Linked DNA regions of Homo sapiens: region 2 is linked to region 1. A link means that fine-mapping ties the variant in region 1 to the expression of a gene that starts in the linked region. Tissue or cell type: whole blood. Region 1 holds a variant in brackets; the other region holds the start of a gene. All regions are shown on one strand. Distances are between the middles of the regions.

Region 1 (8,185 bases):
CGAAAAGCCTATTTACCACAATTGTTTTCACCCAGTACATTATGTCTGGCTTTCAGTGGAATAGTACAAGTCATACTAAAAGTCAAAAATAAATAAACAAACTCCCAAATCACATACATGCCCACACATAGAGTATGAAGAGACAAGGCAAGCATCAGAACCAGACTCAGATGTAGTAGAGAGGTTAAATATCAGACCCAGAATTTAACCCTTTTCCCATTTAGAAAAAAAAAAAAAGGGCAGCTCGCTACCAGCACTCACTTAATTTTTACATAAACACACTCTTTGAAGCTGAAGCAAATCTGACTGATTTTCACTGTGAAAATAAAATATAAAAACTTTTCATGGAATTATTTCTAAACAGAATTAACATCAGAATCATCTGAATCATCAGAATCATCTATTTCAGAAAAATCAGATTCATCAAATGAATCTTCAGGCAACAACTACTTGAGAATGATGTTAACATCACAAGTAGGATTGCTGCTTTCTAGGATTTGACATTTTCAGCGATTGAGAATTACTATATTTTGTAAATGGAAATGCCACTACTAAAAACAATGCTATAAATGGAATGATGTCTTTTATTTCCAAAGTTGACATACTAGAGCAATGTGAAAATAATAATATTTCATGGCAAAGTCATCTCAGGGTAAACATTGCAGTCGCAAGCGCCACCAGCAAGTATTCTTGGGGCAAATGGAAAAAGGGTTAAAAGAACTATGATATATATTATGATAGCTTTAATGGAAAAAGTAAGCAAAATGCAAGAATAGATGGGTAATGTAAACAGAGAGATGAAAATTCTAAGAAAGAATTAAAAAGAAATACTAGAGATCAAAAACACTATAAAGAAATGAAGACTGCTTTTGATGGTCTCATTAGTAGTCTAGACATGGCTGAAGAAAGAATCTCTGAGCTTCAGGATATGTCAATAGAAACTTCACAAACTGAAAAGCAAAGAGAAGAGACTCAGAAAATGGAGCAGAATATCCAGAAACTGTGGGACAGTTACAAAAGATGTAACATATGAATAATGGGAACACCAGAAGAAGAGAGAAAGGAACAGAAGAATTATTGAAGCAATAAAGAATAAGAATTTCCCAAAATTAAGACAGACATGAAACTACGGATTCCAGAAGCTTGGAGAATATCAAGAATGAAAAATGCCAAAATATCTACTCCTAGGCATATTATATCCAAACTGCAGAAAATAAGTACAAAGAAAGTCTTGAAAGGAGCCAGGGGCAGAGCAAACCATCTCATCTATAGAGGAGTAATGATAAGAATTAAGTCCAACTTCTCCTGAGACACCAGGCAAGCAAGAAGAAAGTGGAGTGAAATATTTAAAGTGTTGGAAGAATAAAACTTATCAACCCAGAATTCTGTGAAATTATCCTCCAAAAGTGAAGGAGAAATAGACTTTCTCAGACAATAAAGAATCAAGGGAATTTGTCAGCAGTAGACCTACCTTGCAAGAAATGTTAAAGAAGTTATTCAGGGAGAAGGAAAGTGATATAGGTCAGGAACTTAGATCTATGTAACAGGAAGCATGTTAGAGAATGCATAAATAAAGGTAAAACTAAGATCTTTTGTTTTTCTTATTATTTTCTTTTTTTTTTTTTTTTTTGAGCGGAGTCTTGCTCTGTCACCCAGGCTGGAGTGCAGTGGCGTGATCTCGGCTCACTGAAAGCTCCACCTGCCGGGTTCACGCCATTCTCCTGCCTCAGCCTCCCAAGTAGCTGGGACTACAGGCACCTGCCACCACACCTGGCTAATTTTTTTGTATTTCTAGTAGAGATGGCATTTCACCATGTTAGCCAGGATGGTCTCGATCTCCTGACCTCATGATCCCCCCGCCTAGGCCTCCCAAAGTGCATTTTTCTTATTCTTAATGGATCTAACAGATAACAGTTTGTTCAAAATAAGAGCAACAATGTGTTTGCTGATTTTAGCTTGTAGATAAGTAAAATGAATAACAGCAATGATATAAGAGATAAGAGGGAAGGGTTGGGAATATGCTCTTAAAAGGTACTCGCGTTACCCGTGAAGCAGTATAGCGTTATCTAAAAATGGACATAGAGTAGTTGTAAATGTATATTGTAAGCTCTACAGCAACGGCTAAAATAGGTAAAAAGTGTAATTTATATGCAAAGAAAGGAGAGAAAATGGAATCATATAAAATAAAACTACAGAAGGCAGAAAAACAGTGGAAGGTGAAAATAGAAACAAAGAACAAAGGCAACAAATAGAAAACAATAACAAATACGGTAGATATAAATCCAACTATATCAATAGTTAAATGTCACTGATCTAAATACACCAATTAAAAAACAGAGACTGAGTGGATAAAAAACAGGACTGAACCATATCATCCCCAACCCCCTGGCTATGGCCTGTCAGAAACGGCTACACAGCAGGAGGTGAGCGGCGGGCAAATGAGCATTACTACCTGAGCTCCACCTCCTGTCATATCAATGGAGGCATCAGATTCTCATAGGAGTGAGAACCCTATTGTGAACTGCACATGCAGGTGATCTAGATTGCATGCTCCTTATGAGATTCTAATGCCTGATTATCTGAGGTGGAACAATTTCAGCCCAAAACTATCCCCCACCCCAAGTCCATGGAAAAATTGTGTTCCACAAAACTGGTCCCTGGTGCCAAAAAGGTTAAGGACCACTGATCTACAAGACATCCACTTTAAAAATAAAGACACATATAGAAGAAGAGTAATGAGATGGAGAAAGATACACAACACTAATAGTAATCAAAAGAAAGCTAGAGTAGATACATTAATTTCAGACAAAGTAGGTTTCAGAACAAGGAAAGTTACTAAGGATAAAAAGGTTTTAAATAATAATAAAGGGATCACTTTTCTAAGAAGACATAATAATTCTTAAAGAGTACACCTCTAACAACAGAGTGTCAAAATATATGAACAAAAAAATGATAAAGTTGCAAGGAGAAGTAGACAAATCAACTATTAAAGGTGAAGAATTCAACATCCCCCTATCAGTAACTACCAGATCCAGCAAGCAGAAAATCAGTAAGGATATAGTGAACAGCACCATTAGTCAGCAGGATACAATAAACTCTTTTTTTTTTTTTTTTGAGACAGAGTCTCACTCTTTGTCACCCAGGCTGAGTGCAGTGGTGCAGTCTTGGCTCACTACAACCTCCGCCTCCCAGGTTCAAGTGATTCTCGTGCCTCAGCCTCCTGAGTAGCTGGGATTGCAGGTGTGTGCCACCATGCCTGGCTAATTTTTGTATTTTTAGTAGAGACGGGGTTTCGCCATGTTGGCCGGGCTGGTCTCGAACTCCTGTCCTCAAGCGGTGTGCCTGCTTCGGCCTCCCAAAGTGCTGGGATTATAGGTATGAACCACTGCACCCAGCTCAATACACTTTTATAGAATATCTTATCTAACAACAGCAGAATATAATTCTTCTCAAGCTCACATAGAACATTCACCAAGATAAACCAGATTATGGGCTATAAAATATTAATACATCATAACAAATATAAAGAATAAAAATCATAAAATGTATTGCTCTCACACTACAATGAAATAAAAGTAGAATTTAATAACAGAAAATAGATGGAAAATCCTAAAATACTTAGAAATTAAACAACACAGTTTTAAATAACATGTGGGTCCAAGAAAAAAAATCTGAAGAGAAATTTTAATGTTTTTAATTAAATGAAAATGAAAATACAACTTAATTAAAACTTGTGTGCCAGGTGCAGTGGCTCACACCTGTAATCCCAGCACTTTGGGAGGCCGAGTTGGGCAGATCACCTGAGGCCAGGAGTTCGAGACCAACATGGCGAACATAGCGAAACCCCCTCTCTACTAAAAATACAAAAATTAGCCAGGCATGGTGGGGCGTACCTGCAATCCCAGTTACTTGGAAGGCTGAGGCAGGAGAATCTCTTGAACCTGGGAGGCGGAGATTATAGTGAACCAAGATCCAGCCACTGCACTCCAGCTAGGGCGAAAGAGCGAGACTTCATCAAAAAAAAAA[T/AT]AAAAACAAACAAACAAACAAACACAAACAAACAAAAACTTGTGGGAAGCAGCAAAAGCAATGTTTCGAAGGAAATTCATGGCATTTAATCCATATAATGGAAAGGGAGAAAAATTTTTAAAAATAATCAGTGCTTTTGCCTTAGAAAATTAGAAAAAGCAGAGCAGGTTAACTCCAAAGAAAGCTGAAGAAAAGTAGAAAATAAAAGCAGAAATCGATGAAATTAAAAAAATTCAAAACAGGAAGTCAAGTGAAAAATTAATGAAACCATAAACTCATTCTTTGAAAAGATCAATAAAATTGATAAAGCTCGAGCCAGGCTAACCAATTAAAAAAGAGAGCAGATACAAGCAACTCATACCACAAATGAAAGAGGGGTTATCACTACTGATCCCATGGATGTTAAAGGATATTAAAAGAATATTATAAACTATACTCACAAATTTGATGACCTAGTTGATGGACCAATTCCATCCTATTTGGCCAATTCCTTGAAAGGGATAATCTTCCTGCTATTGTTCTAATATGTCTCCTCCAAAATTCAGGTGCTGTCAATGTGATAGTATTAGGAGGTGGGCCCTTAAGAAATGATTAGGCCATGAGAGGTCACCTCTTGTGGATGGGATTAGGTGCCCTCATAGAAGGGCTTGGAGGAGGAAGTTTGTCTCTTTTTGCTCTTCTGCCTTCTGTCATGTAAGAACACAGTGTTCCTTCAGTCTGGAATATATGGTGTGCAAGGCATCATCTTGGAAGTAGAGAACAGCCCCCCCCAGACACCAAACCTGCTGGCACCTAAGTGCCACTAAGACACTTCCAAAACCCACAAAAAAAGAAATATGTTATCTAAGTAGATCTATATCAATTCAAGAAATTAAATCAATAATTAATAATTTTCAAGACATAAAGTACCAGACTTGGATGAGTTTACTGGTGAATTTTGTAAAATAGTTAGGTAAAAAATAATACTGATTCTCTACAATCTTTCCCAGAAGATAGAAATAGAGAGAATAGTTTCTAATTCATTCTATGAGACTAGCATTATCCAAATATCAAAACCAGATAATGACATTACAAGAAAAAATAAACTACAGACCAATATCTCTCATGAAATAGATGCAAAAATTCTCAATAAAATGTTAGAAAATCGAACCCAACAATGTATAAAAAGAATCGTATAACATAATCAAGTTGGATTTATTCCAGGTATATAAGTCTGGATCAATATTTAAAAATCAATTAGTGCAATCCATTACATCCACCAGCTAAAGAAGAGAAATCACATGATCATATCAATAGATGTAGAGAAAGTATTTGACAAAATCTGACACCCATTTATGATAAAAATTCTCAGCAAATTAGGGATAGTGAGGAACTTCTTAAACTTAATAAAGAATATTAGCAAAATAAAATAGAACCCACAGCTAGCATTATTCTTGACAAACTAGAAGCTTTCCTGCTAAAATCAGGAATGACAATGATGTCCCCTCTCATCACTCCTATGCAGCATAATACTGGAAGTCTTAGCTAATGCACTAAGACAAAAAAAAAGGATATTTGGTAAATAAAAGGTACACAGATTGGAAGAAGCAAGAAATAAAACGATTTTTGTTTGTAGATGACATGATTGTCTATGTATAAAATCCTATACAACTGACAAAAATCTCCTGAAACTAACATGTGATTGTAGCTAGCTTTCAGGATACAAGATTTATATACAAAGCCAATTGTTTTCCCATACATGAGCAATTACAATTGGAATATGAAATAAAAACTTTAATACCATTTACATTAGCTCAAAATATGAAATATTCAGGTATAAATCTAACAAAATGTGCACTGATCTTTATAAGAGAAACTACAAAACTGTGGTGAAAGGAATCAAAAAACTAAACAAATGGAGAGGTACTCCATGTTCATAGATAGGGAAGCTCAATACTGTCAAGATGTCCCTTCTTATCAATTTTATCTATAGATTCAATGCAATCCCAATCAAAATCTCAGCATTTACTTTGTGAATATCAACAAACTTATTGCCAAGTTTTACTGGAGAGACAATATACCTAGAATAGCAAACACAATATTAAAGAAAAAAAAATAGAGGACTAATACTATCCATCTTCACATAAAACTATAACAGTCAAGACAGTGTGGCATTGGTGAAAGATCAGTGGAACAGAATAGAAAGTTCAGAAATGGACCCACACAAATATAGACAACTGATATTTGACAAAAGAACAAGATAATTCAATGGGAAAAGGATATGGTTTTCAACAAATGGTCATAGAATAATTAGACATCCACATGCAAAAAATAAGAGGATTCTAGACATAGATCGTATACTTTTACAGAAAAAGAAACCCTCAGATGTATCACAGACCTAAATGTAAAATGCAAAACAATAACACTGACTATATGCAAATAAAAAATTACAACTATGAAGTGAGTTAAGTCAAGATTACACACTGCATTGTAGTGTTTAATAGCAAAGGATCTGTTGAAACATTAATTAATGGATATGGCATATACTATTAATGGAATTCTATTTGACTTTTAAAAATAATGAGGAACTGCTTCACTTGTGATTAGAAACAATCTAGGGGGTATATTAAGTGAAAAAAGCAAAGTCCGGAATAGTTGGTAAAGTAGGCTACTGCTTGTGTGAAAAAGTGAGAGGTGGAAGAGCATGTACAGACAGTCCCCAATTTACAATGGTTCAACTTAGTTTTGACTTTTGGGTGGTGTGAAAACAATATATGCGTTCAGTAGAAATTGTACTTGGAGTATCCATACAATCATTCTGCTTTTCGCTTTCCATACAATATTCAATCAATTGCAAGAGACAGTCAACACTGTATTGTGAAATAGGCTTTGTGTTAGACAACTTGGCCCAACTGCAGGCTAAGGGAAGTGTTCTGAGCATGTTTAAGGTAGGCTAGTCCAAGCTATGATTATCATTAGGTTAGGTGTATTAAGTGCATTTTTGACGTAGGAGATTTTCAACTTATGATGGGTTTATTGGGACATAACTCCATTGTAAGTCAAGGAGCATTTGTATATATTTGCATATCCACATATAAATGTATATGTGCACACAGATGTGCACACACTAGTGCTGGGTAGATGCATAATACATAACACAGCCTGCCTCTGGGGAGAAAAAGCACTGCAGCTGAGCACAGATGGAGCAGGAGATTCTTCTCCATTCACTGTTTTTTATTTTTAAGCTTTGAACCATGAGAATATATTATTCATTACAAAATAGAAATTAAGCTGCATAAAATTACATTATACATACCAGAGCAAAATGTAAAGTATTTGTGGGTGGTCCCCTATGTCAGATTAACCAGCACATGACTCTTTTTGACCCATGTTTTTCAGCCACGTGGAGCAGAGATCTCACCCACGTGGAGCAGAGATCTCACCCAGTGATTGATATCTGCTTGTGAAGGATGAGTCAGGCAGTCTTTAATTTGCTTGGCTGATCATTGTTTTGAATTATGTTGGACCTAGCTTCTCATTAACACCCTGACTGGAGCCACTGATATTTTTTCTCTTTCACACGACCATATATGTGTATTTTTAAAAAATTGAACTGTTTTGAAAGTTATTTTCTGAACCCCCCGCCTTTTAGCCAATACCTAACATCATCACTTCTTGGTTAAAACAATTATTTTGTAATGTCTGTCACTATTTATGGCTTAATGCAATTACAGTTCATATGTTTTCTCAAACAAGAGCTATCAAGATATCAAAAAAAGATATCAATGTTTAAGATAATTTGCAAAGGAAAATAAAATAATATTTATGGGCAACTATCAGTGAATCAGAAATCATGTTCAGGGATGGATGCTCTTTTAAATTTCTGAATTTGCTAGAATATTTCTTACTCCTAGTTTCTATGGGAAAATGCCTTTGTCTTTTTAATGATTGGCATGATGCTGTGTTCCCTTAATTTGTTTTATGAAACATCTTTTTTTGGACTCTGGGTTCAGTATGCAGCATTTCTTCAAAGAGGACCTACTCATTTTATTCCCTATCAAGGTCACCATTTCTTAGCTCATACCTGTCCAATGCTTGCAGGAAGTGAGCATTTATGTTTCTCAGGTGCGTCTCTTGTTGCCTGAAGGTAAAGGAATTGCCCAGGAGGAGAGTAATAAAG
Region 2 (8,185 bases), 89 kb before region 1:
CCCAAGTCCTTCTCCATCACAAATAAGGCTGGGACATTATGAGCTATCTGGGCATAGTCCAGGGAACCCCAGATATGGAGGCTGTGCCCCAGGAAACTCAGGCCCCGGCCCCGAGCATCTGCCTCCGTGAACACCATCCTGAGCTTCCAGACTTGTGTGTGGGAAGGCAAGTGCGTCTGAGCCAGGAGGTGTTTGACCGCTTTGCCTGTCCATGAGTCTTTTTAAACCTTCTCCATTCTGCTGCTGCTTCATGACAGCATAGGATAAATGATTCTCAAGATTTCCACAGGGATGAATCCACAGGGATGTGGAAATAGGCTCTGTGAGGTGGCTAAAGGCACATTCAAATAAGAGGCATCCTGCCCACGAAGGCTACCGGAGATCCTTCCTATCCCTTCCCAAAGCGGCAGTCTCACCTGGTGACTCGGCATGCGTGCCACCTTGCACCATGGACATAGCACACATGGCCTCATGGCAGCATCTGCCTTCTGAATGTACACAGGAGGAGACCGAGGCTGGGGGAGGGGGGGTGTCACTTGTCCTTAGTCACAGAGCTGGGAAGGGGCTGGGCCGGTGTCCGTGCCATCTGATTCCAGGATGTCACATTAGGGATGAGCTCTTTGGGAGGCTGCCACCTTGCCACTGGTTCTTTGCCTAGGTAGTGACAAGAGATTCTCTGGCATGTTTTAGAGACAAACTGCCTCATGCTCCCATGCCAGCAGAATGTTAGCATGTCATTCTGGGGGCACTGAAATATCTGGAAAATTTTGAAGCCAGGAAAATGGAGCGGCATCTGCAAGGCCGAAGAGCACCATCCACTGCTTGAGGAGCGGACCGTCACCTCGCTGTGTGAGCTGACCCCAGTCCGGCCTGTGAGCAGTGAAGATCCACTCACTGGGCACCAATCTGCACTGGACAATCTCGTCACTGATTTAACCCAACTGGCCTATTGTCTCTTACAGACACAGCTTCAATGCCTCAAAAATAGGATTCAAAAAAGGGAAGGAGACTTTATGCCCAGTAGCTATAACAGTAACATCAACTGAAACATGTTATTAACTGAAACTAGATACGATTCCACTCAGTCTATTCTTTTTCTTTTTTCTCAAACATTATACATTTCCAAAAGCTTAAGGAAAATCTTAAGGCAATTAATTTGGCAGAAAACATATGGCAGAGGAATAATAGGAAATGCCTCCAAAACTGATAAGAAAGGAATTACAAAGCCAAATATGAAGAAACAGAAAGTTTCATAGAACCCACAGCACAGCACCCTGGTTCCAGCTAAGGTAAACAGACTGCATAAGGCTGGCGGCCTGGCTCTGGTAACACTTGGGAAACAGTACAAAGTCCTGGCAGTTAAAGGGTTCTACAGCAGGGCAACCTCAGATTTTTCAAGATTGTGGCATGCTCAAATTCTCCTTTTTTTGGTAATAAAAATATACCTACAGTATATAATAAAAATATACATACAGCACAGGCATTGAGGAAGATGAAAGAGATACCATGAAATCAAGTTAATGTCATAATTTCCAGAAAGAGGAAACCAGTTCCTGAATTTTGAGAAATAAGATCCTTCGGCCACTATGTGAAGTTTCTTCTATAGGAAACTGTAGTCTCTACCCTTTGTATATGGTAGAAAATCAGAGACTCATGCATTTGAATAAAAATCACAATGATAAAGGGAGAAATGGCACTTTCAAAGATGAAAACTGGTTGAGAAATCATTCTCTCTAAATCTTAGGGGGAGGCTCTTAAGGGCTAGCTTCAGTTTGTATCTCTGGTGTTAGGTGATGGAAGTGATTTCAGAGGCCCAAAGTGAGTGCTTACTGGTTTGCTAATGAAAAAAGCCTGACGTGCGGTTCTTCTTCTATGGCAACAAAGTTATTCAACCTAGCATTAAGGTCTGCATCCATGAAATAATACTTTACAGATATGAACACTTCCACAACTCCTCAAGCGCACACACACACACACACACACATGCCCCGCACCATCACCACCTCCTCAACCAACACCAGCCCTGGGCATGGCCAGCTATCCTTGTTAGTCATGTATCTGCAGAGCATAATCCTTCCCTTGTACTTTCTAGGAATTATATTTTTCTTAACTATGCCTGCAAGATTTTCATCTATGAATAAAAAACATTGAAAAGATAAATTATGAATATGTGGTTATATACAAAGTCTGTGACTTCTAATGTCCAGATTTTAGAATGATGCCTAATTCTGGAGGTCTCAGAGGTCCAAGTGGGAGTGGGTACCATGAATGGGGGGGCCTCCATTTAAAAGTAACCTTCTAAAGAGCTCTCTGTTCCTGTAGCTCCCCTTTCCTTATTGGAAGGGTCAAAACGAAGTGTGTTCCCTTAAAAATCCAACAAGAAGTTCCTCTCTTATATCCAAATATAAAAACACCACAAAGAAATATACCATTGGGAGTGTCCAAAGCCAGAAAGTCAGAGGAAGAGAGAGAGAGAGAGAGAGAGAGAGACTGACTATTGGGAGACTCAAAAAGCCCAAAGCCCCTTCTCTAGCTGTTATCTCAGTTACGAACACAACGTACTGATTTTCCGTGGGAACCTCATTATTGCACTGTGGGGACTTCGTCTTCCAGCACCGATTCTGACGGCCCTAATTGCCTTGTTTGAGAAATGTTAGGAAAAAACTAATTTTCCGGCGAATATTGTTTAAAAGAATGATTTTCCCAGGCTAACGACCACAACCCTCTCCCACGTCCAGCATCCCCAGGCCCTGGCACTGTGGAAGCCTAACTTGTTAATTGTCCAAGGAAAACGACTGATGGAACTTCTCCACGAACAGCCTCTCCACTTTCATCCAGGTATTCAGCTCCAGCCCGTTGTAAACGCTCCGGGTGCGGTGGAAAAGGCCTCCTCCCTGTTCCTGCAGCGGCTCTGGGGGAGGGGTGCTGATGTGGAGCGCTCCGGCCGCCGTGGCGCGCCCAAGTCCCCGTCGCGCCCGGGATCGGTGGGGATTTTGTTGGAAAGGTGGGTCCTTCGGCCCCCAGCCCCCCACCCTGGTTCCGCGCCCCGCCCGGGCCCGCCTCTCACCTCCGTCGGCTGAGGGCGCTGGGGCCACCGGCATCCTAGCGGGTGGCGCGCGGCGGTGCCGGGGCGCCCGGTCCTGCGCTCGAATGCCAGATGGGCTGGGAGGCCCGGCAGTCTCAGCGCTCGCGACGTCGTTCCCGGGCCTGGGGTCCTGCTCGGTCGCGTCCTGCAGCCGCCTTCTGGTCCCTGAGTCCCTGTTGCCCGTCCCCGGAACCGGCTTCCTCGGCCTCTGCCCGAGCGAGTCAGAGACTAAACTTTTCCAGCGGCCCGCCGGGGCGGGACCCGCGCTCCGCCCCTCCCCTCGCCGCCCCCGACTCCCGCCCCTCTCCCCGCCCCCCTCTCCCCGTCCCCCGCCCGCGAACCCGGCACTCCTCCAGCTCCCCACCTCCCGCTCAAGCCGCCTGGTCTCCGTGCGCCCCGCCCGCCCCTAGCCTGGACCCCTTCTCCCCGACCCTACCAATCCCCTAGGGTCCGGCTCGCCCTTCGGCCCCTGTTCCCAGGCCGGCCTCCAGACCTTGTCCTCATCGGGCGAGCTCCAGGTGCAGAAACCGGGCGCCCAGAGACCCAGCGGGAACAGGCTTGGAACCAGGTCCGAGGTCTGGGCTTGGGCGGGCGCCTGTCGCCCTGACAGCGAGGGTTTGTTTGGGCCGATTCTTAATAGGAGGATTAATACTATCATTATCGTTGTCCAGATCCTGACCATTTCTTTTGTAACTGGCCGAGCACCGGCTTGGGCTTGCAGGTGGGCGCCTGGCGCCGGACAGCGTTTTTGTTTGGGCTTCTTCCTTTTCCGCGCGGGTCCCCTCCGGCGCCTGCCTGGTCCCTCTCCGCGCTCTACCCCCAGGCACGCAGAGACTTGGGCTCCAGGCGGGGGCAGCACTCTCCCCCAGCCTCTGCTGGTGCACCAGAGCCCACTCCGGCACAGAGCAGCGCCCCTCCTAGACCGGCAGCCAGCAGATCTCAGCCGACCCCCATGCGACCCCCTTCCTCACGCGGATTTGCCCCTTTTGTGTGGCAAAAATAATAATAATAATAATAAATCCATATGAAGGCTTCAAACAGAATTCCGAGAGAAGGAACTGCCAAATTTTCAATCAATGCCAAAGGCCATGATTGAGCGAACACAGAAACAACTGTAGAAGCTTGGGGAGAAAGGAGAAAATTAAAGAAAAAGGAGGAGGAGGAAAAGGAGAGAGGAGAGAAGCGGGAGGAAGAAGACGAAAAAGCAAGGAGAGGCCTGTTATCCGACCGTGCATTCCTGGGCCGGCAGGATTGGGCCGCAGGGGCCGCTGCAGAGAGTTGAGTTTGTGCAAAGGCCGCTCGTTACTTTCTGTCTTTTGCCCTCTTGCCTCCAGAGGATCAGCCCAGCGCATCCTTCTCTTGGAGCAGGGTGCATACGCTTATTTGGGGTGCAGTTTGAGCGGTGAAGGGCACCAAGAGTGGAAGTCGGCGGCACTCCTGTTCCCTGCAGAGAAACGCAAGCCCTCAGCAATTGAGCTGAAGGAGGCAAGTGACTCTGCCTGCTGAGGCTGCCAGCCCTAGAGGCTCTGGCCCCCGGGAGCTGGGGTACTTCCCAGCGTTTTCGCCTAAGCCACTTCGCCTGTGCTACTGTGGAGTCTTCCGGCACTGTAGCCTTCCAACTTGTTCAAAGTGCCTGGTGCACGGCTCTGAGAAGCCACTTCTGTCCCAAGTTTCATGTGGGCCTGAATGTGCTTCCCTTTGTTGGACTCCTACAGCATCAAGTCAAGAAAAGAAGGAAACATGCTCCTTTGGCATTGGTCACAACCAGGATAACAATACAGCATACTGTGGCCACTGTGTCTATATTACCAAAGTGGTCAGTAGGTTCATCACACCTCTGTTCAATTAGTTGCTTCCCGTGATGAAAAATTTACTGCTAGGATACTGGCTGAGGGTTGTTTTAAGGGGCACCCAAGTCTCCGTTCCTAGAGAAAGTCAGTTACCCTGATATAACAGAGCAACCTTGAGGCGTGGTGATGCCTCCAAAACTAGTCTGCGGAATCGGAGCCCAGAAGCCCTGAGGAGTAATGTGGCTCTCATGCTTTATGGCAGGTTTCCCTAAGAGAGACCCAGGATCTGACCCATGGCATCACTGAAATTCCTCTTTCAGTGAGGCTCCGTTTGCCTAAAGATCCCTGTCCTCAGTGGGTCTCCCCACACACGGGCCTCTCACTCACCCACTGCCCCACCCCCATCTGCTGCCCTCTTCCTGGGCCTTAAAGCTCAGACACTAGACTCTGACAAGGAGCCCTCCATGCCCCGGTAGAGACCATCTTCTCTCACCACTCCTTTTGAGAGAAACAGCCCTCCCTACAATTCTGTTGAATAAGTCTCCTCCTCTGCATCCTGTTTCACAAGTGAAAGCAGTTTAACAGAAGAATGCCAGCTCATAAACGTAGAAATGCGAGAATGAGGAAATCCCCATTCTGTAACCCTTAATGAAATAATTAAATCAGGCAGTGTGCACTAGTGGGTGTCAAACCCTTAGGTGAAAGTGTGCAGGCGAACGGGTGCTAATTGGAAAAAAAAAAGAAAAAGGTTTTCCATTTTCCATTTTTTTATGGAGACATCTGGCTGTACCTTACAGGAAGATCAAACTCAGTGTCACTAATACTGGCTCAACCTGGCATTATGTGATGCAAAAGAAACACACAACATCATTGTTGCTGTGTGCTTGCCAAAGATGCTTCAATTGAATCAATTGCAAAGCCTCTAGACTTTACTGCAAGTTTACAGGAAATGGAAGAGTTTGAGCCATGAGTTAAATGACACCATGGGAAAAACTGGACTACCAGAGTGTGGGCATTCTGCAGTCCTGAGCTCTTCCAAAAAAAATCAATGTCAAGAAAAAGGGGTGAAGGATTCTTCTGGTATAAGAACAGCTGAAAAGAAGAAGTATAACAATAAGTACAAATCCGGATTGACTCCCAGCTGGACAAATCAGCACACACACACGCACACAAAAACATTTTGGAGGAAATTACAAATTGGAGGGGATATTGACTGATAGTATAGAATTATTGTTAATGTTTTTAGGTGTGATAATGGCATAATGTTTGTTTAGGAGAATGGCTTTAATTTTAGGAGGTGCTGCTGAAGTATTAAAGGGTAAAATGTCTTCATGTCTAAAACTTATTTTAAATTGTTCAGCACAGTACGTGCACATAAGCTGATATGACAAAAGGTTGGTGATTATTGGTTCTACGTGGTGGATTTAGGGAAGGGGTTGTACAATCTGTTCTCCTTCTTTGTATCTTTGAACTTTTTCCATAATAAAAAGTTGGAGAAAAATAAAATGGCAGGTACTAAACAACTAAAAAATTTCTCTACCTTTGCGCTTAGACTTTAAATCAAATCTAGGCTTATGGGAATAAAATTGAAAGATACTATGAGTTATATCTGTATACTTTTGAAAATCATGTGGCCCCAAACTTAAATATGATTTGAATAAATGTATTATATATCACAATTATGTAATATAACCTTACATGCTTTTTTAATTAAAAAAATGAAATATATTCACTTTCCCAACAATTTAGTGTCCACAGCCTGGTGAGCAGGTACAGTGTGGTTAAAGGACATGCAGTTTTAAGATTCAAACTCAAAGTGAGCCCTTTCTCCAGCAGAACGAGTGCACCGCAGGAGAGCAGAATTGTCTCAGAAGAGCTGAGTAAATGCACCTCCTTTCTCGGTCCCCTCTGCCCTCCCAGCATCTGCTTCCAGGATCCCAGGGTGCCTCCCCAAGTTTCTGGGTCTGAGTTAATCTGCACTATCTCTACTCTTAGCTCTGTTTAGCGTAAAGGCTGCAACAGACAGTCATTATCTGAGTAAATGTGCATGCATGATATTTTTTTGTTTGTCTGAGGCCTCTTCTCAGGAAAATGTGTGTTGGTCACAGTTTGCACACATGAGCTTGACACTTCAAGTCCTGAAGGTTTCCAGAGGAGGACTGCCCCCTGCAAGGTGGGGTCTAACAGATAGTTATGATGGTTAATTGTATGTGTGAACTTGACTGGGGCATGGGGTGCCCAGATATGTGGTCAAACATTATTCTGAATGTGTCTGTGAGGGGGTTTCTGGATGAGATTGACAAGTGAGTCAGTAGACTGAGGAGAGCAGATGGCCCTTCCTAGTGTGGGTGAGCCTCACCCAATTAGTTGAGGGCCTGAGTAGACTGTTATTGAAGACAAAAAGCCAACACTCTCCCTAGTTAGAGAGAAGTCTCTAACTAGGAGAATCCTCTTAGGACTGGAACTGGGACCTTGGACCTATAGACATTGGATGTGTCAGCTTCCATAATTGCATGGGCCAATTCCTTATAATAAAGCCTTTGTGTATGCTATAGGTATACCTCCTGTGGATTCCGTTTCTCTGGAGAGCCCTGACTGATGCAGTGGCCCCAGGGAAAGGGCAGAACCTCACAGATATGGCCACTGTGGCAGAAGGGAGCCCGGAGCTACAGTGGGGATAAGCGGCTTGTGGTCAGTCCATCTGCACCTTGCCAGATATCTCAGAGCCATTTCTTCTCTGTCAGCTTGCTCTACACAGAACTTGGGGGAAATCACTTTAAAATATTGACCCCGATGTGGATTTGTAGAATGAAACTTGGCTTTTTGTATAATAACTCTGTCTTGACCCAAATGAAGCCTTTGACTCACTGCCAGAGCTCTTTAGGGAGGCGTGTTCATTTGGTGACAGAGATGTCTTCCAATGCTGAATCTCAGCACTTCAATTGTGGCTCCACAGTGGTTACATCACTGTGTCCCATCATTAAGCCCTTAATGTGTTCCCACTTCCAACCTCATGGTCAGCCAGAAATCATCAGAAGCTTCAGGAATTGTTCCTTTTTTTTTTTTTTAAGACGGAGGCTTGCTCTGTTGCCCAGGCTGGAGTGCAATGGTGTAATCTCAGCTCACTGCAACCTCCGCCTCCTGGGTTCAAGCAATTCTCCTGCCTCAGCCTCCTGAGTAGCTGGGATTACAGGCGCCCACCACTGTGCCTGGCTAATTTTTGTATTTTTTAATAGAGACGGGGTTTCACCATGTTGATCAGGCTAGTCTTGAACTCCTGACCTCGGGTGATCTACCTGCCTCGGCTTCC

The links. PIP is the estimated chance that this variant, and not a neighbour inherited with it, causes the effect.
Region 2: S1PR3 starts here. The variant in region 1 is fine-mapped to the expression of S1PR3 in whole blood (INTERVAL, PIP 0.98).

The regions. Positions count from the first base shown.
Region 1 is chr9:88,897,504-88,905,688 of GRCh38, reverse strand. All of the region lies in intron 3 of LOC124902205 (a long non-coding RNA gene), which reads right to left. Among named protein-coding and RNA genes, the nearest start is that of S1PR3, 90 kb to the left of the region's middle. The variant T/AT (reference allele first, on the strand shown) is at 4,027.
Region 2 is chr9:88,986,578-88,994,762 of GRCh38, reverse strand. S1PR3 (sphingosine-1-phosphate receptor 3) reads right to left here and starts at 3,295. Exons shown (of 2, transcript NM_005226.4): 1 at 3,068-3,295. RefSeq lists a silencer at 3,455-3,749.